3 linked regions of the Homo sapiens genome follow. The protein of the gene in region 1 purifies or fractionates together with the protein of each later gene. This does not show direct contact. Each region holds a gene or a part of one and is shown in the gene's direction. Other genes may lie near its edges.

Evidence for each region.
Region 2: the proteins of SIGLEC5 (region 1) and KLHL8 purify together in Homo sapiens (affinity purification with mass spectrometry; 2 studies listed by BioGRID and IntAct, with this or other methods). This does not show direct contact.
Region 3: the proteins of SIGLEC5 (region 1) and METTL13 purify together in Homo sapiens (affinity purification with mass spectrometry; 2 studies listed by BioGRID and IntAct, with this or other methods). This does not show direct contact.

The regions. Positions count from the first base shown.
Region 1 is NC_000019.10:51,626,158-51,637,301, reverse strand, and holds the start of SIGLEC5 (sialic acid-binding Ig-like lectin 5 isoform 1 precursor), read left to right. Parts: upstream 1-6,900; 5' UTR 6,901-6,966; coding exon 6,967-7,003; intron 7,004-7,085; coding exon 7,086-7,469; intron 7,470-7,665; coding exon 7,666-7,944; intron 7,945-8,225; coding exon 8,226-8,264; intron 8,265-9,210; coding exon 9,211-9,468; intron 9,469-9,555; coding exon 9,556-9,840; intron 9,841-10,053; coding exon 10,054-10,153; intron 10,154-11,144. UniProt on the Homo sapiens protein: Putative adhesion molecule that mediates sialic-acid dependent binding to cells. Binds equally to alpha-2,3-linked and alpha-2,6-linked sialic acid. The sialic acid recognition site may be masked by cis interactions with sialic acids on the same cell surface.
Region 2 is NC_000004.12:87,216,004-87,226,675, reverse strand, and holds the start of KLHL8 (kelch-like protein 8), read left to right. Parts: upstream 1-6,057; 5' UTR 6,058-6,258; intron 6,259-6,407; exon of another isoform or gene 6,408-6,641; intron 6,642-8,488; exon of another isoform or gene 8,489-8,582; intron 8,583-10,672. UniProt on the Homo sapiens protein: Substrate-specific adapter of a BCR (BTB-CUL3-RBX1) E3 ubiquitin ligase complex required for The BCR(KLHL8) ubiquitin ligase complex mediates ubiquitination and degradation of RAPSN.
Region 3 is NC_000001.11:171,790,038-171,799,796, forward strand, and holds the end of METTL13 (eEF1A lysine and N-terminal methyltransferase), read left to right. Parts: intron 1-414; coding exon 415-579; intron 580-1,979; coding exon 1,980-2,198; intron 2,199-4,358; coding exon 4,359-4,490; intron 4,491-6,444; coding exon 6,445-6,719; 3' UTR 6,720-7,679; downstream 7,680-9,759. UniProt on the Homo sapiens protein: Dual methyltransferase that catalyzes methylation of elongation factor 1-alpha (EEF1A1 and EEF1A2) at two different positions, and is therefore involved in the regulation of mRNA translation.

The DNA.
Region 1 (11,144 bases):
TTCTTACATCCAATTCTGTATTTTGTGTTACTTTACTTTTATTAGAATGGGCATTGTGCCCCTGAGGTGGGCCAGCCTGGCCTCTTCCTTGCCCTTGGGGCCCAGATTTCCTGGTAGAGGCTGTGGGGAAATTTCCTTTTCTGCCCTTCTGTCTATATCTTGTGGCTTCTGGTTGCAATTTCCTCTTCTCTCACCCCATTTGTTTCTTGCACTTAATAGACAGCACAGAGGATGGGGGTTGGGGGAATGAAGCTGTCCCAGGGCAAGATCTGGGATCTCCAGCTTGAGAGATGCCTCTAGTGTTGAGTGGGACAAATGCTTGAGAGGACCAGGTGGGGTTTGGGGCTGGCCCTACAGGTATCTCTGTCTCTCACCCAAGGAAACAAGTGACCTAATGTTTTGTACATTCTCCTACACCTGGGATCCTGGAATCCTAAAACTCACTGCAGCCAGGCACGTGGTAACTGTTCTCTAGTGATCGATCACAAAGAGAGGGTGAAAATAAAAAATAGAATTCCCAAGATCAATGTCACCTCCTCAGTTGCTCCCAGGACAATAACTCTTCTCTGAGCACTGGGGGATTCCAGATGGGAGTTAGTGGGAGATATATCTTAAGAGGATGTGGTAGAACATAAACCTTTTACCTAAGGAGTCACTGTGAGAGTGACAGGGGCACAAGTTCTCCAAGAGTGAGCAACAAGAGGTGGAGATGAGGGTGGGACCACACATGGAGTTACTCATCACTCCGAAGGGACCCTGGAGCCAAATGGAGAGGAAACACCCATTACCTTCTCTCAAAAAGGTGCTGCCTTCTCCTTTCAGGGACCTGAGACCCATGACTGCTACCTCACTCCTTGTCTCAGTGGTCACCTTTACTTCTGGGCTTCAGGTGCTCTGCAGGTGCCCTTCAGTTTTCCCCTTTGGAAGCCAGAGAAACATGGAGAGAATCAGCCTCCTTAGCATGGCTTATGGGAGCTGGAGTAGGATGTCAGGGTCCTGGGGAGAAAAGACCTTTGGATGTGCAGGTCCTGTGGAGGCAAGACCTCAGAGAGGTAGAGCTCAGTGTCTGGGCCAGGGGTCAAGTTTTCAATCTTTCTCTTTATAAATAGTGTTATTGGCTGGGCGTGGTGGCTCACACCTGTAATCCCAGCACTTTGGGAGGCCAAGGTGGGTGGATCATGAGGTCAGGAGATCGAGACCATCCTGACCAACATGGTAAAACCCCGTCTCTACTAAAAATTCGAAAATTAGCTGGGCGTGGTGGGGTGTGCTTGTAGTCCCAGCTACTCCGGAGGCTGAGGCAGGAGAATCGCTTGAACCTGGGAGGCGGAGGTTGCAGTGAGCCAAAATCACGCCACTGCACTCCAGCCTGGGTGACAGAGCACGACTCTGTCTCAAAAAAAATAATAATAAATAATAAAAATAAACAAATAAATAAATAGTGTTATTTATGTTTTGCTCAGAAATCCTACCTACCTCAAATTCATGGCGATTTCCTGCTATATTATTTTCTAACAGCTCTATTGTTTTCTTTGTCATATTTAGACCTTCAAGCTACCTGTACTTGACTTTTATGCATGAGCTGGGAGTCAAATTTCATTGCAAACTTACTGCAAACTTGATTGCATTAAGTTTTGCCCACAGATATTTTTTGAAAAGTTGGCCGGGCCCAGTGGCTCATGCCTGTAATCCCAACACTTTGGGAGGTTGAGGTGGGAGGACCGCTTGAGCCCAGAAGTTTGAGACCAGCCTGGGCAACATAGTGAGAACCTGTCTCTACAAAAAATTAAAAAATTAGCCAAGCATAATGGTGCATTCCTGTAGTCCCAGCTATTTGGGAGGCTGAGATGAGAGGAGTGCCTGAGCCCAGAGAAATAGAGACTGTGGTGAGCCCTGATCACACCATTGTACTCCATCCTAGGTGACAGAGACACTGTCTCAAAAAAAATTAAATAAATAAAAACCCAAAATAAATAAAAAGAAAAATTTATTATTTGCCACTTCCTCTATCACACTTGATGTTTCCTGTGGTTGAGGTCTATTTCCAGGCACTCAATTTTGTTCCACTTGGTCAATACATAATTGTCACTTTTTTTTTTCAGACAAGGTCTCACTGTGTCACTTTGTCACCTTGGATGGAGTGCAGTGCTGCAATCTTGGCTCACTGCAACCTCCACCTCCTGGGCTCAAGTGATCCTCCCACCTCAGCCTCTCAAGTAGCTGAGACTACAGGCATGAGCCACCCATGCCCAGCTAATTTTTGTGTTTTTTGTACAGATGGGGTGTCACCATGTTGCCCAGGCTGGTCTTGAATTCCTGGGCTCAAGTAATCCTTCTGCCTCGGTCTCCCATAGCGCTGGTATTACAGGTGTGAACCATTGAAATGGGCCTATTTTCTCACATTTTTAAAAATTTGAGACAGTCTCACTCTGTCACCCTGGGTGGAATGCAGTGGCACAATCTTAGCTCACTGCAACCTCCACCTCCTGGGTTCAAGCAATTCTTGTGCCTCAGCCTCCTGAGCAGCTGAGATTACAGGCACATGCCACGATGCCCAGCTAATTTTTGTTATTTTTTAGTAGAGACAGGGTTTCACCATGTTGGTCAGGCTGCTTTCAAACTCCTGACCTTAAGTGATCCATCTGCCTCGGCCTCCTAAAGTGCGGGGATTACAGATGTGAGCCACTGTGCCCCGTCTGAAATGGTCATATTTTCTGTAATGTTATGATACATCTTTTTATCTTGCAAAGCCATTCATTGTTCTTCATGGTTGCCTTGACCATACTTGAACATTTCTACTTCAGTATAAATTTTACAATAGAGTTACCAAATTGCACAAAAATCACCCGGGAGATTGTATGACATATTCCTTTGATGCTGTAGATTGTTGGGTAAAATTGGCATTCATACAATATTGTTCTCAAACTCATCAACATGGCCTCTTTTTCAGTTTATTTACATCTTGATTTATTTATTTTTTATTTATTTATTTTCTTGAGACGGAGTCTTGGTCTGTCGCCCAGGCTGGAGTGCAATAGTGCAATCTCGACTCACTGCAACCTCCATCTCTCAGGTTCAAGTGATTCTCCTGCCTTGGCCTACTGAGTAGCTGGGACTACAGGTGCCTGCCACCACACCCAGCTAATTTTTGTATTTTTAGTAGAGATGGGGTTTCACCAGGTTGGCCAGGGTGGTCTCGAACTCCTGACCTCAGGTGATCCACACGCCTCGGCCTCCCAAAGTGTTGGCATTACAGGCGTGAGCCACTGCGCCCAGCCTATTTACATCTTTAATGTCCTTGAATACAGATTTATAATTTCCTCCATAGAGGTGACATATACATATTTTTGTTAGATACATCTCTAATAGTTAGATATATTCCATATATTCAAAAATTATATCATATTTTTTGATATTGATAAATTATATCATAATTTTTGAAGCTTTTGTCAATGGCATTTTTATAAAATTCCATTTTTATTACTGTGATGTGGAAAGACAACTGATTTTGTAATTTGATTAATCTCTGGCTGTCTTGCAAATATTTTATTAAGGCTTCAAATGTATCCGTATATACTTTTGGATTTTTCTTTTTTTTTTTTTGAGATGGAGTGTCGCTCTGTCGCCCAGGCTGGAGTGCAGTGGTGTGATCTCCACTCACTGCAAGCTCCACCTCCCAGGTTCACACCATTCTCCTGCCTCAGCCTCCCGAGTAGCTGGGACTACAGGCGCCCACCACCACGCCCGGCTAATTTTTTGTATTTTTAGTAGAGATGGGGTTTCACCATGTTAGCCAGGATGGTCTTGATCTCCTGACCTCGTGATCCGCCTGCCTCAGCCTCCCAAAGTGCTGGGATTACAGGCGTGAGCTACCACGCTTAGCCTGGATTTTTCTATATGTGCAGTCATGTCATTGATAAAGACCTCTGTTAAAATTTCATTGTAATTGCTGTACCTTTTGCTTATTTTTATTGCCTTATTATGCTAGGACCTGAAGCTACTTCATTAGGTATATGATGTTTGCTGAAGACACCCTTTATCTTGTTTGGGAAATTCTCTAAAGAGAATTTCTAGTTGGCTATGAATTATATCATAAAGGGATTTGAAATCACCCAATGCTCACTTATTCATCTCTTGAGATTTAATTAGTTAAGGCTGATGTGAAAACAGAAGCCATACTATGTATTTTAGGAGAGGGAATTTAATATTAAGATTTTAATATAAAGATAAAAATACCATTTTCCTACATAATCAAGTCTTTATCTTTAGATCCTACTAGCCGGTATGATGAATTACTTTCACAGTTCAAATGAGGAATAAAGTTCAGAATTTGCAATAAGAAAAAGAAAAAAGAAAAAATTATTCTGACACCTGTTAACATTGACTATTCAGGATGACTGAGACAGGTATCAAGACTAGTGCAGGCCAGGCACAGTGGCTCATGCCTGTAATCCCAACACTTTGGGAGGCAAGGCAGGGAAATGACCTGAGGTCAGGCATTCGAGACCAGCCTGGCCAACATGGTGAAACCCCCATCTTTACTAAAAATACAAAAATAAGCTGGGCATGGTGGCATGCACCTGTACTCCCAGCTACTCAGGAAGCTGAGATAGGAGAATCGCTTGTACCTGGGAGGGGGAGGTTGCAGTGAGCTAAGGTTGCACCACTGTACTCCAGCTGGGACAACACAGTGAGACCCCGTCTCAGAAGAAAAAAACAGAAGTCAATTAAAAAAAAAAAAAGACTAGTGCAATAATGGAGATAGGTCAGGCTCAACTCGGAATACAGCAAAGACCAGGGGGGTTTATGGGCAAGAAGCATAGTGCAGCAGGTGAGGGAGGCTGGCCGTGTGTGTTAGTGGACGGAAAACTACTAAGAGGAGACACTGAAGATACCGGGATTCTTTCTAAACTGACTTAACAGGATTCTTGCTGAAAGCAGGCCAGCATGATCAGATACCAAGGGTGAGGGCTAGGGAATTTGATCAGATAGTGAAGGCGATCAGATATCAAGAGTCTTGCAAAACCAACTTAGCAGGATTCTTGCTACAGCTGGACAAGGCAGTCCCAAGGACAAAGCCTAGTTGAAAAAAGGGTTCAGAGGAGCTTTCATAAGTTTGGTTAAGAAGAGAGTCTTTGTGACTCTTTAGAAAAAAAAATACAAAAATACAAAATTTGGCACACATAGGATGATTTTTGGACTGAGAAAACACATCAAATCACAAAATCTAAAATGTCAAAATATGAGACAACTCAGAAAAATGGCATACTATGTTTGTTAATAGTATAGTCTACCTGTCTGCTACACCTGCATACTTTTTCCCTATATTTTTGACTGATTTTCTTTGATTGCCTTCATAATGGTGATAATTTTTTTCTTTTTGAGACAGAGTCTCACTTGGTCACCCAGGCTGGAGTGCAGTACCGTGATCTTGGCTCACTGCAACCTCTGCCTCCTGGGTTCAAGTGATTCTCCTGCCTCAGCCTCTGGAGTAGCTGGGACTATAGGTGTGCGCCACTATGCCTGGCTAAATTTTTGTACTTTTAGTAGAGAGGAGGTTTCTCCATGTTGGCCAGGCTGGTCTCGAACTCCTGATCTCAGGTGGTCCACCCGCCTCCTCCTCCCAAAGTGCTTGGGATTACAGATGTGAGCCACTGTACCCGGCCAATATTGGAGAATAATTTTATAATACAATTTTTATAGATAGAATAGAAAGAGAAGTCGGTATTTCTTCTGGCATGGGTGGTTGACGTTTGTTTTGATCATTGATAGTTTAAGAAACTGTCTTTATTCTCACAACACATTAATCGGAATGTGAAAAATTTTTAATATATTGTTAAATTTTGGGAAACTATTATGAAATTTCTTTCATAAAAGAGCAGTAACAAGGCAGGTTATTTCCACACATTGCGTGGGCCCCTCCTGGGCATCTGAAAAGTGGATCCTGCAAGGGAGGGCATTGAAGATTGAGCTTCATCAGCCTCACAGTGGCAAATTTGCTTCTGTAGCTCCTTAATAGGATGAGGCTTTAGCAGGGCTTGTGTTTCACTGCCGTCCCACAAGACCCTCAGGTCCATCAAGACCCAAAGTGGACTGTGCTGTGTCCCAAGAATCTTCTTAACATAAGAGTGCTTCAGCTCTCTCATGCTCTGACCCTCCACGAAATTTGGGTCAAAAAAATTTTTTTTCAGCCCTTTTGAACTTTTTTTTTTTTTTTTTTAAGGCAGGGTTTCACTCTGTTGCCCAGGCTGGAATGCCGTAGTGCGATCACGGCTCACAGCAACCTCAAACTCCTGGGCTCAAGGAATTCTCCTATTTCAGTGCCCCGGAGGAGCTGAGACTATAGGTGTGCCACCACACCAGCTAATAGTTTTTATTTTTTGTAGAGATGGTGACTTGCTATGTTGCCCAGGCTGGTCTCAGACTCCTGGGCTCAAACAACCCTCCCACCTCAGCCTCCCGAAGTGCTGGGATTACAGGCATGAGCTACCATGCCTGGTCACTTTGAACATTTAAAATCAAATTTAAAATTATGTATTTCCAGAATGTTTCATGGTTTTTAGGTGGAGGGTGGTTCTGACATCTCACCTCATCACCAGGACAAGCCCTTGTTTCTCTTTTCTTTCTGCATTCAGCCCCCTGAGGATCTCACTCATGACTGAAACATCATTTGAGGGGTGATCACCTCCAGATCCTCAGCTGGACAAGCCTCACATCGTCTGGGGGCCTCAGTATCTTCACCTGCGGCGTCCAGTCGGGGTGGGAGCAGAATGGCTTCCCAGCCCCCGCCTCACCCCAACAGCACGTGATGCCCAAGTTCCCCTTCTGTGCGCGTCCACAGCTCTCACTCACCCTCCGGCTTCCTGTCGGGGCTTTCTCAGCCCCACCCCACGTTTGGACATTTGGAGCATTTCCTTCCCTGACAGCCGGACCTGGGACTGGGCTGGGGCCCTGGCGGATGGAGACATGCTGCCCCTGCTGCTGCTGCCCCTGCTGTGGGGGGGTGAGTGAGCTGAGGGAGGAGGGACAGGCACAGGGGTGAGAAGGGGGGCTGGAGCTGCAGCTGAGCTTCTGTGTCCCCCCAGGGTCCCTGCAGGAGAAGCCAGTGTACGAGCTGCAAGTGCAGAAGTCGGTGACGGTGCAGGAGGGCCTGTGCGTCCTTGTGCCCTGCTCCTTCTCTTACCCCTGGAGATCCTGGTATTCCTCTCCCCCACTCTACGTCTACTGGTTCCGGGACGGGGAGATCCCATACTACGCTGAGGTTGTGGCCACAAACAACCCAGACAGAAGAGTGAAGCCAGAGACCCAGGGCCGATTCCGCCTCCTTGGGGATGTCCAGAAGAAGAACTGCTCCCTGAGCATCGGAGATGCCAGAATGGAGGACACGGGAAGCTATTTCTTCCGCGTGGAGAGAGGAAGGGATGTAAAATATAGCTACCAACAGAATAAGCTGAACTTGGAGGTGACAGGTATGGCAGGGACCCCAGGAGAGGACCCTGGGACGTGGAGACCCCCGTATGAGAACAGGGACAGGAGTTGGGCAGGGGCGGCTGGAGGAGGTGTAGGACTTGGGGCAGGTCGGGGCCTGAGGCCTGGCCACTCTCGGGGTCACACCTTACGTCCTCAAGCCCCTGGGGCCCAGGTATCTCCCTGTCTCCTCCTCAGCCCTGATAGAGAAACCCGACATCCACTTTCTGGAGCCTCTGGAGTCCGGCCGCCCCACAAGGCTGAGCTGCAGCCTTCCAGGATCCTGTGAAGCGGGACCACCTCTCACATTCTCCTGGACGGGGAATGCCCTCAGCCCCCTGGACCCCGAGACCACCCGCTCCTCGGAGCTCACCCTCACCCCCAGGCCCGAGGACCATGGCACCAACCTCACCTGTCAGATGAAACGCCAAGGAGCTCAGGTGACCACGGAGAGAACTGTCCAGCTCAATGTCTCCTGTGAGTGGTGCTGGGGACACAGCTGAGTCCTCAAGGGCAGTGGGAGTGAGGGGTGTGTGTGTGTGTGTGTGTGTGTGTGTGTGTGTAAGGAAGACAGAGAGAAACAAAACAATAACTTGAGAAACCTTGTGTGTGGATCTAAGCCTTGGGATCTGCGGGGAGTGAGACAGGACAGCCTTCCCCGCTTGGTGGGTTTCTGTGGCTCCTCTTTGGGTACCTCCTGGGCCCATGCCCATCTCACTCCTCACTGCTGAAGCCAAGTTTATATCTTTTTATCCCAGATGCTCCACAGACCATCACCATCTTCAGGAACGGCATAGGTAGGAAAGACCTCCTCTCTGAAGCTGGGACCTGCCTCTGGGTCTGTCTCTGAGCAGAGGTAGAGAATCAGAGCTTGAATGCAATCAGATTTGGGAAGAGCAAGAATGAGAATTACTGCCTTCTGGCTTCCACCTTCTGTGAGCCCCATGTGCAGGCACATATGCACACACGCACATACACACGCACACATGCACACACGCACACACACACGCACACACACACATGCATATACACCACACACATACACATGCAATACACCACACACACACGCACATACACACACACATGCACACAGGCACACATGCACACACACCACACACATATGCACACACACACATACACCACACAGGCACATGCACATACACACGCACACATGCACATACACCACACACACATATGCAGATACACCCACACACGCACACATGTACGTACACCCGCACACGCACACACACACGCACACAGGTGCACACTCATGCACTCTGCTCAAAGCAGTGAACAGACTTTAGACCCCACCCATCTCCCATCCCTCCTGTGGTCTGGTTCTTTCCACAGTCACTAAGGACCACTCCATGCCCCTCTCATCTCAGTCAGCCCAGCTCTGTGGTTCTTCTCTCACCCTTCCACTCCTGCATCCTCAGTCTTATTTCCTGTCACATTAGCGGACTGTATTTCCCAACGCCACCGGGGGCTCTCTGTCCTCTCTCCACCACAGTCCAGGCATGTACCAGTGAGATATTGAGCCTCCTCTGGAGACATGAGACTCAGACACTTTTGGTCAGTTTCCTGAGTGTGCAAAGGCCCAGCCTTTGAACCAGGATGCAATCAAGCCAGCATAGGCCAGGGGAGGAGAGGGAGATGTCATCTGGATCCTGGGAAGGAGGGAAGGATAGGGACTGTCAGCCTCCCTGGCCCCATCTCTCTTTCCCCACCCTTCTCTCCCCAAAGCCCTAGAGATCCTGCAAAACACCTCATACCTTCCGGTCCTGGAGGGCCAGGCTCTGCGGCTGCTCTGTGATGCTCCCAGCAACCCCCCTGCACACCTGAGCTGGTTCCAGGGCTCCCCTGCCCTGAACGCCACCCCCATCTCCAATACCGGGATCTTGGAGCTTCGTCGAGTAAGGTCTGCAGAAGAAGGAGGCTTCACCTGCCGCGCTCAGCACCCGCTGGGCTTCCTGCAAATTTTTCTGAATCTCTCAGTTTACTGTGAGTGTGGGGGCAGCTGGAGCAGGAACTGCATGGTATTAAAGAAGGAAGAGGCCCCCTGCTGAGTTCTGTCCTCCCTCCCCACAGCCCTCCCACAGTTGCTGGGCCCCTCCTGCTCCTGGGAGGCTGAGGGTCTGCACTGCAGATGCTCCTTTCGAGCCCGGCCGGCCCCCTCCCTGTGCTGGCGGCTTGAGGAGAAGCCGCTGGAGGGGAACAGCAGCCAGGGCTCATTCAAGGTCAACTCCAGCTCAGCTGGGCCCTGGGCCAACAGCTCCCTGATCCTCCACGGGGGGCTCAGCTCCGACCTCAAAGTCAGCTGCAAGGCCTGGAACATCTATGGGTCCCAGAGCGGCTCTGTCCTGCTGCTGCAAGGTCAGGGGGCGTATTGCAGAGGGCAGGGGCCTGAGGGGAGGGGCATGGATCCCAGAGTGATGGATGGTGGGAGAGAGAGGCTGGACTGGTGGTGGGGAGACAGGGTTCTTCATCTCCTGTCTGAGCAGGGCCCTGGAGCAAGTTGCCCAGCAGGTGGGAGGACAAGAGTCTGAGTCCTGGGAGTGAGTTATTGCACGCCCCTCTTTTCTGCAGGGAGATCGAACCTCGGGACAGGAGTGGTTCCTGCAGCCCTTGGTGGTGCTGGTGTCATGGCCCTGCTCTGTATCTGTCTGTGCCTCATCTTCTTTTTAATGTAAGTCTTGGTCCCAGGGAAGGTACAGGGTGGTGTTTGTAGGGAGTAGGAGAGACTGAATCTCAGAAACACAGAGCTAAGGCCAGAGGTGGTGATGTGTGCTTGTGGTTCCAGATGCTCAGGAGTCTGAGGCAGGAGGATCACTTGATCATGGAGGTTGAGGCTGCAGTGAGCCAGGATTGTGCCAATGCACTCCATCCTGGGCCTCAGAGTGAGAGACCCTGTCTTAAAAGAAAAACAAAACAAAACAAAAAGCAGAACTGAGTAGATCCAGAGAGGTCTTCTTTCTTTTTTTCTTTTCTAATAGCTTTATTGAGATACATGTTTTGTACAATTCATCCACTGAAAGTGTACGAGTCAATGGCTTTAAGTATATTGACAGAGTTATGCATCTGTCACCAAAATCAATTTTAGAACATTTTCATCAGCCTAAAGTGAAAAACGAAGACATAAAGAAACCTTGCACCCCTTAGCTATCACTCCTGCTTCTTTCCCCCAGCCCTAACCTATTCCATGTCTCTGTGGATTTGTCTGTCCTGAAGTTGCAGTTGTACTTTGTGTGAATGGAATCACGCGATATGTGGTCCTTTGTGGCTGGCTTCTTTCACTCGGCCTAATGTTTTCAAGATTCATCTATGTTGTAGCATGCATCGATACTTCATTCCTTTTTGTTTTCAAATAATATTCCATTATATAAATGGAACGCATTTGATTTGTGGGTTCAGCTGTTGACGGGTACTTGGGTTGCCTCTGCTTCTTGGCTATGATGCATAACACTGCTATGACCATTCCTGCCATGGTTTTGTGTGTAAGAGGGGGTCTATATGATGGAAATTCAGTCCATGGCCACCCTGACCAAATCCCTGGTTATCCAGGAGGATGGAGCCCTCACTCCGAAGTCAGGAAGGTCTCCGAGTTTAGTTCCGGGGCCTGGATGGCTTCATTGTCATTTTCACCATCTTAGCATGGGATGGGACAACCCGCTAACCCG
Region 2 (10,672 bases), on another chromosome or scaffold:
TAATATATATTATATATAAGTAATATATATATTATTTATATAAGTAATATATATTATTTATATAAATAATATATATATTATTTATATATATAGAGAGAGAGAGAGAGCGAGAGAGAGACAGAGTCTTGCTCTGTTGCCCAGGCTGGAATGCAGTGGCGCGATCTCAGCTCACTGCAACCTCCGCCTCCTGGATTCACGCAACTCTTCTGCCTCAGCCCCCAAGTAGCTGGGACTACAGGCGTGCACCGCCATGCCCGGCTAATTTTTGTATTTTTAGTAGAGACAGGGTTTCACCATGTTGGCTAGGCTGGTCTTGAACTCCTGACCTCAACTGATCCACCCACCTTGGCTTCCCAAAGTGCTGGGATTACAGGCGTGAGCCATCGCGCCTGGCCTAATATAGAGCTATATCTTAATGAAAGAAGTACTTTTCACAGACATCGTACATTTGGAATACAAATTGCAATGGAAACACAATTACATTTGTTTCACTGTGCCAATTTCTACCATACATATGGATACAATTTTGCTCAGAAGTATGTGGCACATGTTTCAAAAATAGTTACTGAAAATCAAAGTTTCTCTAAATGTGTTTTTTTCTGGTAACTAAAGTCACAGTTCTTGAATGTGGTAGGGATGGAGGCAAATTGCTCTCATTCTGTCATTTCTCATATTGCTCCGGAGAGAATTCCACAGTTCCCCCACATATTCAGCCTGAGAATTCAACCCTATCTAGGCAGGTTCATGGGAAATGGAAACTGATTAGACTTGGGTATGATGGAGTAATAAAAATAAAATGCTAAAAATGAAAACAAAACAAAAAAACAACAACACCCGCATTTCAAAAGTCACCAGCACTAGTAATTTTCAAAAGAAATGATTTAGAGCACCAACAGAACTAGCAGTGGTCATAGCAAGGATGATGCTTTCTGTTTTAGCTTCACCCACAGACCCACCCCCAAACTACCTAAAATAGATATTCAGTGGAAACAATAACTGTGTGCCTGTAAAGATATCTTCAAGTAATGTCCTCTAACCCAGAGCTGCACCCCTACTCCTTTCATTCCAAGTTTTAACTCAAATTCTGTCTTATATAGATATTTTGGAGCCACCAGTGAGACTTGACTATTGTCCTTTAGGAAGCAACAGAGACCTTATGGCCCCAAACCCTAAAATATTTACTGCCTGGCCCTTGGCAGGAAGTAGTTACCGAATGGTTGTTTACTGAGCAAAGTTGATATGCATCCATTTATAGTCCAAGTATTTATTAAGCATCTATACATCAAGTACTATGCTGTTATTTTCTATTTAAGGAGATTTCAGACAAATGAAAGATATAGACAACTTCTTAAAATGCTCACTAAGTGCTACTTTAGGGGCAAAAATAAGTTGTAAGATGAGCATATATAGGAGGCAGTAACCCAAAACTGGAGAGGGGGGACTGTAACCAAGAAAGGTTTCCTAATTAAAAAGTTTTCTAAGTTAATACTAGATGATTAGAAAGAGTTCACCAGGCAAAGGGGTAGAAGGAACAGCAATTACAAAGACCCACAGAAAAATTGGGAACTTTAAATATTTCAGGGATGCTGGGTGCTGTGACTTGAGCCTTGTAATCCCAGCCACTCCGAAGGCTAAGGCGGGAAGCTAAGGCAGGAGGATCCCTCGAGGCCAGGAGTTCAAGACCAGCCGTGGCAACATAGCAAAATCCCCCCATCCCCGCACCCCACCAAACTCCACCCCATCCATCTCTTTAACAAAATAAAAACAAAAACAAAACAACAATATATATCAGAGAAATATATCAGAAAATGGTCAGCAAAGGTTTAGAGATACCTATGTCAGGCTGATTGCATGGTAGTGGATGGAAGAACTGTCATTAATTTATTAAAACAGCACAAGTTGAGCCACCAGCCTAAGGTCAGAAAACATAGCCATCCACATGTGTGTCTTAGGATAAAAGGCGGGAAATGATTGTTGAGGGAAGCTGAAGTGCCACAGTAAAGGCTGGTTTTGTAGGAGGGTGACAGGATAGGAGTCAAAGGATTGGGATGAAATGTAACTGCAAGCCAGTAACCCTGACCTGGACAGGAAGATAGTGGTCTTGCTGGCGGTGTTCAGGCTCTTTAAGTACGTTTCCATAGACAAAGAACCTTAGCAACTCTTCTGGGACCTGCTCTCTGGTTGCAAGCTTTGCCTCCCTAGCAAATGAAGATAAAATAACCTTCTTCATTAATCTTTCCAAATCCCTCGGCAAGCCACATCTGAAATTCTTTCCCTGCTCCCCGACTCCTTTAAGAGAAAGAAAAATTGTCTGGCTCTGTCATCCAGGGAATGAGCCACCATATCCAGCCCACATCTGAAATTCTTTTGATGGTTATAAAGCCTTTTATCCCAGGATTAAAGATAAAGACTTAAAATGCAAATGTTGGCCGGCGCGGTGGCTCATGCTTGTAATCCCAGCACTTTGGGAGGCCGAAACCCAGCTACTCAGGAGGCTGAGGCAGGAGAATCACTTGAACCTGGGAGACGGAGGTTGCAGTAAGCCAAGATCGTGCCATTGCACTCCAGCCTGGGTAACAAGGCGAGACTCCATCTCAAATTTAAAAAAAAAAAATGCAAATGTTGATTGGGGTTAAAATATTGCAATTTTTTTCTGACTAAAGTACAATCATAAAATGAACAAACAGCTATCAGATCCTTTCCAGTTTTAATTTATCGGACTTTGAGGGAAGGGAAGGAATTTCTTAGATCCTTACTTATTATAGGCTAGTCTTGCTTATTCTCAAATGGAGCTAGGGAGGAATGGGTAAAAACTAAGAAGACATTTCGTCCGATTTAGGAAATGTGTGTTTTGTTTTAGTTGAGGTATGTCTTATTTTGTAAGATACTGTATATATTTTTAAGTAATTATTTGAGAGCATTGTTACAGATATATCACTTTTTAGGGAAAGATTTTTTTTGCCCCAGTTTATAGCTATTTGGTTTAAAAATTTCATTTAATTTTCAGAATTTTTGCCAGACTCCTCTGCCCCAATAAAAGGCTCTAGATTAGGTGTATCTTAGGTGCTCCCCAAACCCCTGGCCACCCCATGCATACCTTTTCATTATTCACTGTTTAATTCTCTGTCTCCGAGTCTAGATCCTAAGTCTCCATGAGAGCAGGGACTATTCAATTTTGTCTACTGCGTATTTCCCAGTTCCTAGCTCAGTGTCTGGTGCTCAAAAAATGTTCTTCGATAAATAGATGATAATAATATTGAAATATTGTGTATATTTCTTTGATTTGTTAGTAACTACAAATAGTTTATTGTGTATATGTCAATTAGCAGAAGAAAAAGAGCAGTTGTGCTCTTTTTTATAAGCATTTTTAGGAGTTACTGTGCACCTTATTACAAGAAAAGTGGCCAGGAATGGTGGCTTACACCTGTAATCCCAGCACTTTGGGAGGCCAAGAAAGGCAGATCCCTTGTGACCAGGAGTTTGACAACCAGCCTGGGCAACATGGAGAAACCCCATCTCTACAAAACAAAACAAAACAAAACAAAACAAACAAAAAAATTAGCCAGGTGTGGTGGTGTGGGCCTGTAATTCCAGCTACTCGGGAGGTGGGAGAATCACCTGAGCCGGGGAAATCAAGATTACAGTGAGCCATGATTGTGCTACTCACTGCACTCTAGCCTAGGCAACAGAGTGAGACTCTGTCTCTAAAATAAAATAAATAAAATAAAATAAAAGCTTAGGCTATAAAAAACAAAATTTCTATTAACATGGTCTTACTAAATACATATTGTAGGCCGGGCGTGGTGGCTCATGCCTGTAATCCCAGCACTTTGGGAGGCTGAGGCGAGTGGATCACTTGAGGTCAGGTGTTCGAGACCAGCCTGGCCAACATGGTAAAACCCTGTCTCTACTAAAAATGCAAAAATTAGCCGGGCGTGGTGGCAGACACCTGTAATCCCAACTATTGCAGAGGCTGAGGCAGGAGAATCACTTGAACCTGGGAGGTGGAGGTTGCAGTGAGCTGAGATTGTGCCACTGCACTCCAGCCTGGGCGACAAGAGCAAAACTCCGTCTCAAAAAAATAAAATAAAATAAATAAATAAATAAAATACATATTGTGTTTTATGTTTAATAAAGGGAATACAGGGAAGCTTTCCCTTTTCCCTTGGAAGGTTCACTGAAAAATCAACTGTCAAATGGCAGACTAATAGGAAAAAAGACATACAAAATTTATTTTAATGTGCATAACACAGGGAGATTTCAGGAGAATGATTACCCAATGACTCAATGGGGTAGAGACGTTTATATACTCTTCTTTATGGGGGAAAGGGAGATTGGGGAAATGTGGCAACTTAAGGTATAGTAAAGGACTTTTAGGGGAAAATGGGGAACATACAATGGCCTGGGAAAAAGTGTGTTGAGCCCATACAGCAGACAATAGTTTGTGACAAAAGTCTGTCCAAGAGTGTTGACAGACTTCAGTCTTTCTTCCTCCAATATGAGTTAAGTAAATGAAAAATCAGGTAAGGCAAATATGTTCCTCTTTGGCAGGTCTAGTTTCTAGGCAGATAAGGGAAATTCAGAGAACGACATCATTTGGTGCTTTGGGAGAGACAAAGAATTGAGAGGCAGGAGGGGTAATGGGGAAGGTAAGAGACACCTTGAAGCTGCTTCCTCAGTTCAGCGCGGCAAAGCACCATATTTTGGGGTATCGATTTCTGAGTCCCAACAATTTTTACATCACGTTCCAGACACATTTTATGACTTTTCTTCACTGCATACTTCTTTAAAACTCATCTTACTCTATTTTTCTAAAGGTATTTGCATTAAATGTGCAAAATACTAATGCTCTAAAGAGGAATATTTTGAAATATTAAGAATTATTTATATTTCAATGTAAAAAATGTGATTTTTTTTCTAGAAATAAAATTTCAAATTCAAATAGTTGCTTTGGGGTTTTTATAGAAGATGCATATATATATACAGATATATATATGTTCATTTCTATTAAAATCAATGTGCTAATGTTCATATGTGTTAATATTAATAAAGGTCCTAGGATTAAATTTATTCTGAAATAGACTCCTAGGATTGTGAAAGTTTGAGGTTAGTCTGGCAAAAGACACATTTAGGGGAATATCTTTCTTTAAAAAAAATTTTGTTTTTTTGCTGTCTCTTGATCTCCCGCCTCACACATTCCACTTTATTGACATTATAGAAAAATTAATTCATTTCAACAGCACTTTTACTTGCATTGCTTTTTTTTTTTTTTTTTTTTTTTTTAGACGGAGTCTTGCTCTGTCGCCAGGCTGGAGTGCAATGGCACAATCTCAGCTCACTGCAACCTCCGACTCCCGGGTTCAAGCAATTCTCCTGCCTCAGCCTTGCGAATAGCTGGGATTGGTGGCACGCACAACCACGCCCAGCTAATTTTTGTATTTTTAGTACAGACGGAGTTTCACCATGTTGGCCAGGATGGTCTCGACTCCTGACCTCGTGATGCGCCCGCCTCAGCCTCCCAAAGTGCTGGGATTACAGGCGTGAGCCACCGCGCATGGCCACTTGCACTGCTTTTTAGCAGCGAGCTCTCAGGTCAATCAACTGCTTCCTTAGGTTTACAAACTGTGGGTGTGTATTTATAAACACAGTTGTTTTGTATATCCTTTGTAGAGCACGTGGTGAAAGTGACACAGGAATAAATGCAAACCTTTTTTTCCCCTTCTTTTTTCAAAGACATAAATCCCAGGAACACTCACAACCGCAGAAGGGGATTTGATGGACATACAAAGAAACTAAATTTTGTACCGCCGCAGAAGTGAAGCATGGATAAGCTCAAAGGTATTTAGGCAGTGTTTTATTTCAAGATTTGTTATGGGGACCTCCGCCACGCCCTGGTCCGCCTTCACCAGGCCGGGCAACACTGCCCAGTCCCTGAGACCCGGCCGCCCACTAGGGAGCCGCGGGGGCGAGGCCGTGGGGGTGGCCTCGGGGAGGAGGTCCCGAGAACCACACTTCCCAGAGTGCCGTGCGCAGCCCCGCCCAGCCCGCCCCGCCCCCAGAGGCCGCGGCTCGCGGGGGCTGAGGCGAGAGGACGCCAAGCGCCCGCCGGGGCTCCGCGGGGCCGCGCAGGAGAGCGCGCGTCCGCCGGGTGCTCGCGCGGGGTTGGTGAGGTTCCGCTGAGGGCGGCCGGGGCTCTGGGAGCGTGGTAACGTGGCTGCAACCTTAGCGACATCAGGAAGAACAGGGTCGAGGATCGAGGTAACGGGACGCTCGTCTCCCCTCAGTCCCCTCGTCTCCCCTCAGTCCCCTCTTCCTTTGTGCGGTGCCGTCCGCTCGCGCCGAGCCCTCCCTCACCCCAGCCCCCAAGTCGCAACACCGTCCCGTCTTGGGTCTCCGGTGTGCGGAGGAAATTCGAGCCCTCGTGCACCAACCGAAACTCCACAGCTGAGAGGGCTTGGGGCCCGGACAGCAGGAGATCCAGCCCCTGAGCAACCTTCCACGGCTTTTGTCGCCCCCATTGGCGGGAGGAGCAGGGTTATGCTCCCGGCTCCCGTAGGGGAGCTCCAGCCTCTGGCTCTGTCAGCCTCCCCGGCAGCTCCTTGACTCCTTCCTCCCAGTCTTTCGAAGAGGGGCCCAGGCAGGTGCTTCGCGGGGTCCAGGAAGAGGGCAGGCGCGGTGCGGCTGGCGCGGGTTCGGGGCCCCGGGAGGGCGGCCGGACGCCCCCTGGAGCCGCGGCCTGCGGGGGCGGGGCGAGTGGGCCACCTCCGGGCCACGCCGCGCGGGGACGAGGCGAGGAAGGCACTGCCTGTCCCCACTCGGGGGGCTTGCTGGCCGCCCTGGAGGTGCCTTCCCGGGAGCGGCGGTGTAGACCTTGTGGAGAGTGCCTCCTGATGTGGAACCAGGAACCGCAGCCTCTTTCTAGACGCTCAGCCGCCCGGTGGAGTTGTTACCGCCACGATGACAGCTCTTTACGCCTTCCACTCCGTGCTGGGTTCAGTTGGCTTGCTGTTTTCTTCAGAGAGAGCGATTTGGCTACATAGCTTGAATTTTCTACGTGTCTCGTGCTTTACTGGACTTGCACTGTTTTTCCCTCTTGGCAGTGTTTAATCGGGTGACTTTTCATAGAAAACGTTCAGTATTTTCATCTGTGTTAATGGCATAACTTTCTTCTTGACTCTGCCCTAAGCTAATGTTACCAGTTTAGAGGGATACTTTGGGAAAAGGTCCTTAGAACCTGGGTTGACATAAGTATTTTATCTGCTGGTTGCACGTTTTTTCCTTTGCATTGTTTTTCTCCTATACAAGATGGTAATTGTTGGACTCTTGGTGTTCTTTATTCTCTCTCTAGAAGGAAATCCTCTTCGCGCATCTTTCTCGTGTTCTGGCCCTGCGGTACTCTTGGGTACGCAGAGGACTGCTGCTAACAGTGCTGGCGCCTGGAACGCTGCTTGGAGATGGCGGTGGCATTAAGCTGCTGCTTTTCCTCAGACTTCCTCCTGGCACCCTTCTTAATTTGTCAAACTGACCCAGTTCAAACTTCAAACTTTTAGTCACTTTATTTATTTCGTCACTTTTTAAAAAAATTGCTTTCAAGATACCAAAATTGCGTAAGCCTAAATATAAAAAGAGGTGTCTCAGGGGCCGGGTGCAGTGGCTCACGCCTGTAATCCCAGCACTTTGGGAGATTGAGGCGGGGGGATCACTTGAGGTCAGGATTTTCGAGACCAGTCTGGCCAACATGGTGAAACCCCATCTCTACTAAAAATAACAAAAATTAGCTGAGCGTGGTGGCACATGCCTGTAGTCTCAGCTACTCGAGAGGCTAAGACAGGAGAATGGCTTGAACCCGGGAGGCGGAGGTTGCAGTGAACCGAGATCATGCCACTGCGCTCCAGCCTGGGCGACAGAGTGAGACTCCATCTCAAAAAAAGAAAAAAAAAGTCTAAGGATACTCTATTCAACTACATATGAGCACTTAGCTTCATCATTTTAATTTTTAAAGCTGCCAATTCTTTTAGCATTTGATAAGATTACTGATAATTGGTTAAGATGATATATTCTGTAATAATTGCACATTTTTTGACAAGAAACTCAGTTCACATTCAGTGAGGGTTATTTTTTAAAAACAGTATTTCTTCATTCATTAAGAAGAAAGTTAGGGCCGGGCGCGGTGGCTCACGCCTGTAATCCCAACACTTTGGGAGGCCGAGGCGGGCGGATCAAGAGGTCAGGAGATCAAGACCATCCTGGCCAACATGGTGAAACCCCATCTCTACTAAAAATACAAAAAAATTAGCTGGGCATGGTGGCGCATGCCTGTAGTCCCAGAGACACGAGAATCACTTGAACCTGGGAGGTGGAAGTGAGCTGAGATCACGCAGCTGCACTCCAGCCTGGCAATAGAACGAGACTCCATCTAAAAAAAAAAAAAAAGTTGGGTAAATTTTGATCCCACCTGCTATTTTGAAAAATGAATTTTCTTTTTTAGAGCAGTTGTAAGTTCACAACAAAACTGAGTGGAAGGTATAGAGATTTCCCATGTATCGCCTACCCCTACAGAGCCAAAATCTCTCATCAGAGTGGTACGTATATTACAATTGATGAACCTACATTGACATGTTATCACATCCACAGTTAGGATTCATTCTTGGTGTTAAACATTCTGTGGGTTTGGACAAATAACCCTTTTGTTTTTATCAAGAACTTTTGAGAGTTGTAGAGAACTGAAATGGATATTGTCATTTTAAAAAGATTAAAGAGACTATTGCAGACATCTTAAACATTAATTTCAGATAGTTTTTGTGTTTTATAAATTGAATGTTTAAATTTTTGGTTACTTATATTGGAATTCCCAAGAGTCACATTTATTTTTGTATATTAAGAACTAAAGGGCCCCACATGGTAGCTCACACCTGTAACTGCAATTTGGGAGGTCAAGGCAGGAGGATTGCTTGAGCCCAGGAGTTTGAGACCATCCTGGGCAACAAAGTGAGACCTTTCTCTATATTCCAAAAAAAAAAAAAAAAAAGAGGCCAGGCTCGGTGGCTCATGCTTGTAATCCTAGCACTTTCAGAAGCCAAAGCAGGCCAATTGCTTGATCCCAGGAGTTCCAGACCAGCCTGAACAACACGGCGAAACCCTGTGTCTACAAAAAAACAAACAAACGAACAAAAATTACCCAGATGTGGTGGTGTGCACCTGTGGTCCCAGCTACTCGGGAGACTGAGGTGGGAGGATCACCTGAGTCCAGGGAGGTCAAGGCTGCAGTGAGCCATGATTGCATCACTGCACTCCAGCCTGGGTGACAGAGTGAGACCCTATTTCCCCCCACCCCCAAAAAAAGCAAGAGATGAGGGAGGATAAATGTTTCATAAAATAACAAAATGTTGTTTTCAGTCGCTAAAATTCACTTGACTATGTCTTTTTTTTTTTTCTGAACAAAATGGTTTATATTAGCCAAAGAAACAAGAGGGAGTTGAGCATTTTAAATAAATTAATTTTTGTTTACTCATGTCAAGATATGTCTGCAATAAAAATGTCACCCATTAGTCTATTTTTAAAAATTCTGTTTTCTCTGTTTTGAGGAGCTTTTATGGAAGCACCAGACTATAATATTGTTCTGAGCTCACTTCTGGTACTACACAATTCTCTATTAGAATCCCAGATCTCCACTTATTGGCTGTGTGAGCATGGCAAGTAATTTTCTAAACCTCTTTCCTTAGCTGTGGAAGGGGGATAAAAATAATACGTACTTCTATTTTACCAGAATTGAGGATTATTTGGTGTTGTATGTGAAAACATTCTCTAAGCTATAATCAACTATAATATTCATTGATATTACTAGTCACATGCTGTATTTTAAAATGCTGCCAGTACAATTTATTTTCTGGTGGATATTGCTATATAGATACTGTCAGCTGCTTTTTTTTTAAATGGGTTGGTCATGCAAGAAAGTATATTGTTTGGTTTGGTTATGAATGATTTAGTTGGTTCTTATGAGTCAGAGAGAGAATTATGGAAGAGGGTTGGAGGGACCTTGGGAAATTTTCTACTTCATCTCTCTGACTCTTAACCTGAATCTGTTAGCGTGAGCATAAATGGTCTTCCAAGGGTCTGTGAACTCTGTATATTTATACTTTTCTGGGGAGAAATTAAATGAAAATTTATACTTTTCTGGGGAAAAATTAAATTAAAAGAGCATCATGACCTTGTTCCCACTAAAGGTTTAGGAAACCACTAGCTTCAATGATCTAGGCAGGTTTCTTTAGTAAAAATGTTAGAGATTATTTTTAAAATTAGTTTTTTGTGGAAAGGAAAGAGAAACAGGTTATATTGCGGAAAGGAAAGAGAACAGGCTATTTTTGAAGCACTGAGTATCTGTTTTTCTTCCAAAGCTAGAAGTTGATATTTATGATACACTACCTTCATATGAATAATAGTGCTGCTACTTCTACCTGGAAGTGGTACCTTTGATTGATTCATTATCATTAGGCAGGTATTGTCTACTCCTCTCTTCTTCCCCACCCCCAGCCTTGATGGGCAATACAGTGGAGGCAGAGAATGGGACTTTAATACAATCCAGCATGTCAGAATATTATTTAAAATGCCAAAAGATAATTTGGCTTGTTTATTCTAAATTTGGATGTTCTTTGTTTTCACAACAAAACACCCA
Region 3 (9,759 bases), on another chromosome or scaffold:
GAGGCTTCAGGAAGCTTACAATTATCACAGAAGGTGAAGGGAGACCAGGTACATCACATAGCAAGAGAGGGAGCAAAAGAGATGCCAGGCTTTTTTCAACAACAGCTCTAGAGTGAGAACTCACTCAATACCATGGGGAAGGCACCCAGCCATTCATGAGGGATCTGCCCCCGTGACCAGCATGGTGGCTCCGACATTGGGGATCACATTTCAACGTGAGATTTGTAGGGGACAAACATCCAGATGATTTCACTACGGCCAGTTTCAAGCTATCAACATGATGTCAACCAGTTTGCAAAATTTTAACGATTGGGTCTTTTGAGTGTTCAAGCCATCTGGAGCACACTGCTGCCAGTAACCCTTGCTTCCTGAGGACTAGTGTACTAAGCATAGGGCTTCATATCTCTTGTTTAGCCCAGAAGAAGCGGAAAAAGGACAGGAAGAAGCAGCGGCCTGCTGATGCGGAGGACCTCCCTGCAGCCCCGGGGCAGTCCATTGATAAGAGTTACCTGTGTTGTGAACACCACAAAGCCATGATCGCTGGCCTTGCCCTGCTGAGAAACCCAGAGCTACTCCTAGGTGAGAGAGATGCCACTGCCTTCCACAGAAGGGAGCATAAAGATTACAGACCTAAACAATTGGTGTCACTTGCATTGTAGTTGAAGAACAGCAATTACAAGCTGACAATGTATCTTTCTTCATCTCAACCATGTTATAAGTTAATGAGCATTCTAATTAACTGTTGCCTCAAACTCAACCTGTTATATTGAAATTGTATTGAAATATGTTAGAGTCTAAGTGGTATTTTTTCTGTTCATTTCTTTTTAAAATTAAGGTATATCATGTATTCAATGAGATATGTAAAAATACACAGATTTTAATTGTTCAGCTTTTCTGTAATGCATTATTTGAACAAAAGATGCAATTCTATCTTGAATTTCTACTTTCTGAAAAGATTCATATTATAGTTAATGCAGTCATAGCCTTATCGCTAATAGCAGGTTTGGATCTGACTGCATTAGTGAAATTGTTCATGTTTTGTCTGTGATTGTAACCGTTTTCACCTGAAGTCCCTGAATGTGCCTTCTTGGAATACCCTATACTTTTGTCCTATCTTAGTGTTGATGTATGTCACTAGAATCTCAGTTCTTAGATTTAATTCTCAGGGTCTGTCTCCTTCGGGTGACTTTTGTTGTCTTCCTTTGATCCCCCTGTGGTGGCTGTGCTCTGTGCTTAGGAGTAGGAGTTGGGCCTTTGTTTTCCTGTGATTTGTGGAACTTGAATGGCTTACCCTTACTTGGTGAGGGTGTCTGAGAAGACGGTGTGGCCTTTTGAGTCAAGGGCAAGGGACATTGCACCTCTGCTGCCTTGTAATCATGAGCAAGATTGTTTGGCCACTCTTCTTCCCTTTCCTAGAGAGGGTCTAATAATTCTTATAGTGAAGAAGTCTTTTTTTTTGAGACAGGGATTTACTCTTGCCCAGGCTGGAGTGCAGTGGTATGATCGCAGCTTACTGCAGCCTTGACCTCCTTAGGCTCCCACGTCAGCTTACCGTGTAGCTGGTACCACAGGTGTGTGTCACCATGCCCAGTTAATTTTTCTACTTTCTATAGACAGGATTTTGCCATGTTGCCCAGGCTGGTCTCGAACTCCTGAGCTCAAGTAATCTGCCCACCTCGGCCTCCCAAAGTGCTGGGATTACAGGTGTGAGCCACTGCCCCTGGCCACTTTGAGATCTTTAAGAGACAATAATAATAACACACTAGTTCATCTTCTGGATCTAGTCATCATGAATCCAGGATTCAGTTATCAGATGTCAAATTCACTCCTAGATTTCTGAAATGAGACAGGGAGACCTCTAAATCTTGTATCCCCTGAATGGAGACAGTGAGCTGACTTTCCCTTTTGCCTTCCCTGAGGCTGGTACAGAATTTTCCAGTGAACAGGTGGCAATGTGATGCTCTATTCTTTTCTTACAGAGATCCCACTGGCATTGTTGGTGGTAGGCCTGGGCGGGGGCAGCCTCCCCCTCTTTGTCCACGATCATTTTCCAAAGTCCTGCATTGATGCTGTGGAGATCGATCCCTCCATGTTGGAAGTGGCCACCCAGTGGTTTGGCTTCTCCCAGAGTGACCGAATGAAGGTCCACATTGCAGATGGCCTGGACTATATCGCCAGCTTGGCAGGAGGAGGAGAAGGTACTGCTCTTGGAGCATTTGAAGGGGTGTTGAGGGATGATTGATGCGACATTGTCAGGCCCGCAAGGGCCTCTACAGTTTATCTCTAAGAGAGTGGCATGAGTATCGTTCCAGTCTTCAGCCTGTTCATTTGTTGATATACTTATTCACTAGAGTACCAGCTATATGCTTAGCACTGTGTTAGGTGTGAATGTAAAGCAATAAGTAAAACAGGCCATTCCTGCCCTTATGGTGCTAACAGACCAGTGGGCTTTTTTCTGACCTGTAACCTTGTCATTTCCTCACCATCTTAAGAAACCTGAAGTCTAACTGGGCAAAGAAACAGAGAAGAAAAGGTGGAATGTGTGTTGGGAGGTATTTTTGTAAATATTTCAACTGGAGGTAAAGCCAGAAATAGAGCAAAACAGTATTCATGTAAGATCAGTGGTATACAACCTCAGGGTCTGACATTTGGTAATGTATGGAGACAATTTTTCATTGTCACAAATCGGGGTGGGGGATGTTGCTACTGACATCTAAACGGTAGAGGTCTAGGATGCTAGTAAACATCTTACAATGTTCAGGACGGGCACTGATGACAGAATTATCTGGCCCAGAATTTCCACAGTGCTCAGGTGGAGAAACCTTGATGCAGATGGTACTCTGTGGGAATTTTGATAGGCCTTCTGCAACTAGAATTAAGGTTCCATTTGCTCTAGTAATTTGCATCCCAGATTTAGGACAAAAACCATAAGCATAATAATTTTCTGTAAAATACTAGGGACAGTAACTCTGCTATTATACAGATAGGCTGCTGGTGAGTTTAGTACTTTCTGGAGCTCGAGTCCTTCGGGGAGAAGGCAGTTAGGTTGGTTCAGTTCTGTTCAGGACTGCTGGTCTGCTCATTCCATAACAGATACTCTGGTCTCACTAGATTAGAATATTTTCCAGTAAGGGTGTGGCAAACTAGGAGGCCTGGGACAAGTATTGAACAGATGCTATCTTAATTTTAATTGCAAACTGAATTGAATTGTAACAGTTTCGTAGGTTCCCTCTCTGAGGCTAGGGTTAGTTTAGGTGCCCAAGCCCAGATAGCTAATACGGTGAAGTATTTACAACAGTGCCATGCACATGGTAAGTACTTAATCCATGATGTTACTGCTGTTGTTATCTATAGATCAGTTTTCAATGGCTCTGCCCATCTTCTGTAACACCAAAATGTTTCAGATTACTGGAGGGCTCAAGGCTGCAAATGCAGGCTATTGTTTTCCTTGGACTTTGATGAGCCAACATGTTCTCTTTGTAAGAAACCAAAATCAGATCTGTGCTATGAACAATGATAAGCATGCAGCAGTCCTAATTAAATACTTATTAATTATTGAATAATTATGACCACAGTCTCAAAATTTTCTAAAAACCTGTCAGTGGCATTGCAGACCTACCCCTTATAAAAACAATTTAACATTATAGTAAGGAGCAGATCCATTTCTTCATCAGTTCTTTCTCACCCATTTAGCAAAATCATTTCTTTCTTGAGTCAGCTCTTGTTCATGGAACTGCAAAGATAACACTAACTGAAATTTCAGAACATTTTCTCCTATGAGGCAAAATGTGCTGTTTTCAGAGTTAAAAGTTACCATTTGCTGGGTCAGCCCTTAAAGGCTTAGTCAGCTGCTTTGTCTAGATCAGTGGTTCTCAACTCTGACTGTATTTAGAATTACCTGGAAAGCTCAAGAAAAATACCAGAGGCTTCCCATCTCTCCTCCCATCTGCCCCCTACTACCCCAGGATATTTTATTCTGTTGGTTGGCGTGTAGTACACATTAGAAGCTTCCCAAGGTGATTGTAATGTTCTGCCACAGTCAAAAGCCACTGGTGTTGATAGACTCTTAACCGAGAAATATTCATGCAAAGGGGACCCCAGTAATGTTTTTGCCTTTGGAAGGTGCTTTTAAATGTGGAAGAAGGTTCCATCTTTACTATGGGACACTCTGAACCCTGATGACAAAGACTCCCCTGGGCCATGACATCAGTGCCCTTACAGGCAAACCACATCCTCTGTGTCATCCTTCTAACTTAGTCACCATGCCCACCACTGGTAAAGAGGAGGTATAGTGTTGGAATGTAAATGGTATTATTTTATCCAGCAAAGACAAGGACTTGTTTCCTTCTTTTTCCCAGCACGGCCTTGCTACGATGTCATAATGTTTGATGTTGACAGTAAGGACCCAACACTGGGAATGAGTTGTCCGCCCCCAGCATTTGTGGAGCAATCTTTTCTACAGAAGGTTAAAAGCATCTTGACTCCTGAAGGTATGGAGAACAAAAGGTGGGAGAGGGAGGAGAGAAGGGACCATTAACAAAAATTATCTTTTTAATGAAAAATGCACAGAAGTGCGAGCTCGATCAATTTTTCCAAATTTAATACACCCATTTACTAGCACTAGACACAGAAAATTTCCAGCTTGCCAGAAAGTCGTATCTCTTATCCCCTTTCAGTAACTTGTCCTCGCAAGAGTAATCACTGTCTTAACATTTGTCCACCCAGCTTAATTTTGCCTGTTCTTGTTCTTTATATAAATGGAATCATATGGAATGTTGGAATGTTCCCTTTTTTTTTTTTGAGACAGGGTTTTGCTTTGTTTCCCAGGCTGGAGTGCAGTGGCCTGATCATGGCTCACTGTAGCCTCAAACTCCTGGTCTCAAGGAATCCTCCCACCTCAGTCACCTGAGTAGCTGGGACTACAGGTGGATGCCACCATGCCTGGCTAATTTTTTTATTTTTATTTTTTGTAGAGATAGGATCTCAACATGTTGCCCAGGCTGGTCTCAAACTCCTAGCCTCAAGCGATCCTCCTACCTTGGCCTCCCAAAGTGCTGGGATTACAGGCATGAGCCACTGAACTTGGCTGAATGTACTCTTTAAGTGTCCATTTTCTTTCACTCAACATGATGTTTGTGAGACTCATTCACAGTGTTGTGTTTACATGGCTTATTTTTATTGCTGTGTTATATCATGTAACTTAACACAATTCGCTTATCCATTCTACTGTTCGTATTTGGTTTGTTTCCTGTGTGGGTCTATTATAAGTGGTGCTGCCATTAACATTCTAGTATATGCCTTTTGATGAATTATGTTTTCAGATCTCTTGGGTATATACACAGGGTTGTAATTGCTGGATCATAGGTTATGGGTATGTTTTTGGCTTTTGTAGATGCTACCACACAGTTTTACAAAGTGGTTGTAGCAGTTCACACTCCCACCAGCATGGTGATGCTAGCTACTACATGATGCTTCCTACACGTGCTCTACTAGGCAGTGTGTTATTTAATCTTCATAGCAGTCCACTTTTTGGATGAGGAAACTGAGGTTGAAGATTTGCCAAGGTGACGCAAGGTAACAGTTGGGGCTCAAAGTCAGTGCCTTGTCACCTCAAAACTGGAGCCTTTAATCCCTATGTTAACAACCCTCTAGGTATTTTTGATTTGGTGTAAGGCACTGTGGTAACTGGCTTGATTTGGAATCTTAATTGTCAGAAGTCAAGATAACCTCGGCCCTGTCACTGGTTAATACTCTATGGTGTGTATGCCAAGAATGTAATATCCCTGTGGAGTTGGTAAATTTTACTTTCGTAGGGAATCACTTTCTATTGATTGATTGAGACAAAGTCTCATTCCGTCACCCAGGCTGGATTTTGGCTCACTGCAACCTCTGCCTCCTGGGTTCAAGAGATTCTCCTGCCTCAGCCCCACTAGCAGCTCCTGCCTCAGCCTCCCTAGCAGCTGGGATTACAGGCGTCCACCACCATGCCCAGCTAATTTTTATATTTTTAGTAGAGCCGGGGTTTCACCATTTTGGCCAGGCTGGTCTCAAACTCCTGACTTCGAGTGATCCGCCTGCCTCAGCCTCCCAAAGTGATGGGATCATAGACATGAGCCACCGTGCCCAGCTGGGAATCACTTCTTTCTCAAAGCTATTCTTTGAGAAGCTATTTGGGAAACTGAGGCTTGGAGAATGGTAAAATAACATGTGAGCAGCACAGAAGAGCAAGAAATAAGGCTGGAGTTTGTTTATGGCTCACATGCTCCCCATGCTTTTCTCCATCTGCCTTTCTATGCTGTGTATTCTCTGCAAACTCATCACCACCGTGTGTTTTAGTCCACCAGTCTCCCTGGGACAGGAATTGGTATTTTCCTCAAAGCCGATCCTTGTCTTTCATATGTCTCCTGATGTGAGGTCATTCTGACTTTTCTTCCTACCCTATAGGTGTTTTTATTCTCAACCTTGTGTGCCGAGACTTGGGGCTAAAAGACTCAGTGCTGGCTGGGCTCAAGGCAGTGTTCCCCCTCCTATATGTCCGGCGAATTGAGGGTGAAGTGAATGAGATCCTGTTCTGTCAGCTGCACCCTGAGCAAAAACTTGCCACACCAGAGCTCCTAGAAACAGCCCAGGCTTTGGAGCGGACCCTGAGGAAGCCTGGGAGGGGTTGGGATGACACGTATGTCTTGTCAGATATGCTCAAGACGGTGAAAATTGTGTGACTGCTTAGGCCAAGCAGCCCTCCTGCCTAGACTGACCTTGGACTCCCAGCCTGCCAGAGAATGAAGAAATACAACGCACAGTACTTTTGAAGCTTCGTATTTTTCTTGGTTTCACACTCAGCTACATGTGACCTCCAGCTTGGTGAGGTTGCCTGAAGATTAGGGAAAATAAAAATGTCCTTCCCATCTTGTCCTCTTCAGTACCACTTGGGTTGGTTTGTCTTTGCTTCCTACACCACGTCCTTGAGTGGAGTTCCCTGCTGAAGCCCCTAGCACACACTGCATGCCTTAACAAGTGTGTGCAAGCCCCTCAGAACTCAAGACATCCAAATTTTATTGCGTCTCTACTTATACTGGTTTGCTTTTGATTTATTCCTCTATTAGTTCTATAGGAGTGATCTCAAGTGAGATAGCAGAGCAAGATGCCAAAAGACCATAAATAGAGTAAGGTTTCTATAGATGTGAGACAGATTTGAGAGAGCATTTACTCTGTCTCCCTGTGGATGAAACTGCTGCTGAAATGGTTCCAATTTTTAGGAATCTGCTTACCCACTTCATTATTTGACAGCTTTCCTTGGTGACCCAAACCTTGTAGCCTAAGCCATTTGTCTTTTTCTCAGTGGAGGGAGTGTATGGACCTGGCCCCATGGCTTTGCATGTTAGAGACCTGGCAGACTAAAGTCTCTAGTGTTTGTTTGCTCACATTTGCTGAGTGACAGCTATGTGCCAGACTGCATAAAGGGTGGTGGCAGAAGTGAAAATGTTTAAGAATGACCAAAAACATTAGTAATGAAAGTTAATGTGTTCCAGGCATTCTTCTAAGTGGTTTACATGCACTGTCTCATTTAATCTGAGATAAAGGATACTTAAGCCCAAACTATATCTAAACCCAAATCTCACTTGGCTGGAAACATCAATCTTAACCATTTATTCAGAACCATTAAACCAATGATTCCAAGACTGGCTTGAATTTTGTCTTTCCTAATTATACCGAGGTTGACTTAATGAGCAGTGCCATGGAAAATAGGCATTGTCACCATTCACCACCTGGCTCTTCTTTCCACAGGCCCTTTAAAAATGGACCCTGACCTTTCAGTTGAAGCATACAGATGCTCTTCAGCCTACGATGGGGTTATATCCTGATAAATCCATCATAAGTAGAAAATGCATTTAATACCCTGATAACCCATTGTAAACTTGAAAAATTGTAAGTCAGAGACTGTCTGTATTTCAGTTAGGTTGTCATCCTTAGAAAGTAGTGTCAGTCTGTTAAGGAGAGGAGGGAGTGCAGAGAAGTGTTTTTAGATCTTACCCATTAGAAATACTTGGTTCTCTTTCTTTAGGAGGGGATCTTCCCCTGGAACCCCGTAACGGGAAGATTATCCCTCATGTCAGGTCTGTGTACCCCAGAGGACCTTACTTGGCAAGTCCTTTCTTTTTTCTTCCTTGTTTTTGAGACAAGGTCTCTGTCACCCAGGCTGGAGTGCATTGGCACCATCACGGCTCACCGCAGCCTTGACCTTTTGGGCTCAGATGATCCTCCCAACTCTCAGCCTTCCAGGTAGCTGGGACTACAGCATGTACCACCATACCTGGCTCATTTTTTGTAGAGACATCCACCTGCCTTGGCCTCCCAAAGTGTTGAGATTACAGGCATGAGCCACTGTGCCTGGCCACTCTATTTTTTTTTTTTCTCTTGAGCTTGTGCAGTGTCAGGATGGGTTATGGAGGCCCAGGGTCTGAGTCAGAGGAGCTCATCTGCCTGTCCTTGGTCAGATCACCCTCATGCTGTGCAGAGTTTGGAGCAGCACATTTGGGTGGCATGGCCAAGCTCTAGGCGTTATCAGAATAAGGTCTCAGTTAAATCTTAGGGGCAATGGTCTACAGAGGCACGAATTTACATGTCGCTTCCCACATTTGGAGGTGGGAAGAGACACTCATGGGTGATGATTATCAAGACTTAAGTATAAAAGAAGAAGGAAATTGGTTATGTGCTGAAGGCTGGAGAAAGACCAAGGGACAGAAGTGAGGCAGTTTTCGGCTTAATTTCCTACAAATGAAATTTGTACCAACGAAGACCAGTGTGTTCACCAGAACACTTGGTGGCTGCAGCCTGCTTACTCAAACCCTAGTCTGACTCCCCTCTGGAGCTTGCTGGATTGTGAGGAAAGTGGTGTGTGTACAGACAGCCATTGGCCTGAATCCCATCTTTTCCACTGGAGAGCTTTTCACTTTTGCCTTAATGACAAGCAAATGGTTCCTTATGGGAATTTTGCCTAACTTTAGGGGTGAGCGCTCTAGAGGAGGGGGGAGGGTTAGAAGCTTCAATGCCTACCAGACCAAGCAAGTAACAAATATGTGGAGTGAGTGAGCCAGGTATAAAACAAAAAGGCTAGGATGAGACCTGTGGCAAACCAGAGAATAAATATCCCCTCTAAAGGCAGCGGCTGTCCCAGCTGAGCTGTCTTGCAGGAGCACTGTCTTAGCATAGCTAGGTCTTTAAGAGAAGCCAGAAATCTCGTGCGTGTGTGCGTGTGTGTGTGTGTGTGTGTGTGTGTGTGTTGACATTAAAATGTTGGCCAATCAGTATACATTTTCAAGTTATAATCTATTTTGCATAGAGAGATTATAGGGGAGATAGCCTATGGAATTCCTGAGAATCTGGCATGCACCCAGCTTCTGAGTACAAAACAAGGAGCAAGCTGATAGCAATGAGTTACAAAAGTCTGGAAAAGTCTTATCTATGACCTCAATTTTCTTTAATGGCTACAGCTGAGTGGGGATGGTCCCATCATCCTTGGGAGAGTGTACAATTTAGCTTCCCAGGACTATCAGAGAACTGAATGAGAATAAATCACATGACAGTTTGTGCCCTCGCCCCTCCCCCCATCCTAAAAAAGTTCTGTGACAATGTAAAATTGGTAAGCCTGCCTATTGCCCTTCTCTGCCTTTTTGCCCTTGTCCCTCACCAATTTTTCAGTGTGTGCCTCCAGTCTTCTGTCATGGCTGCCTGCTAACTGGGCCTCTTCTCTAAGTCTGT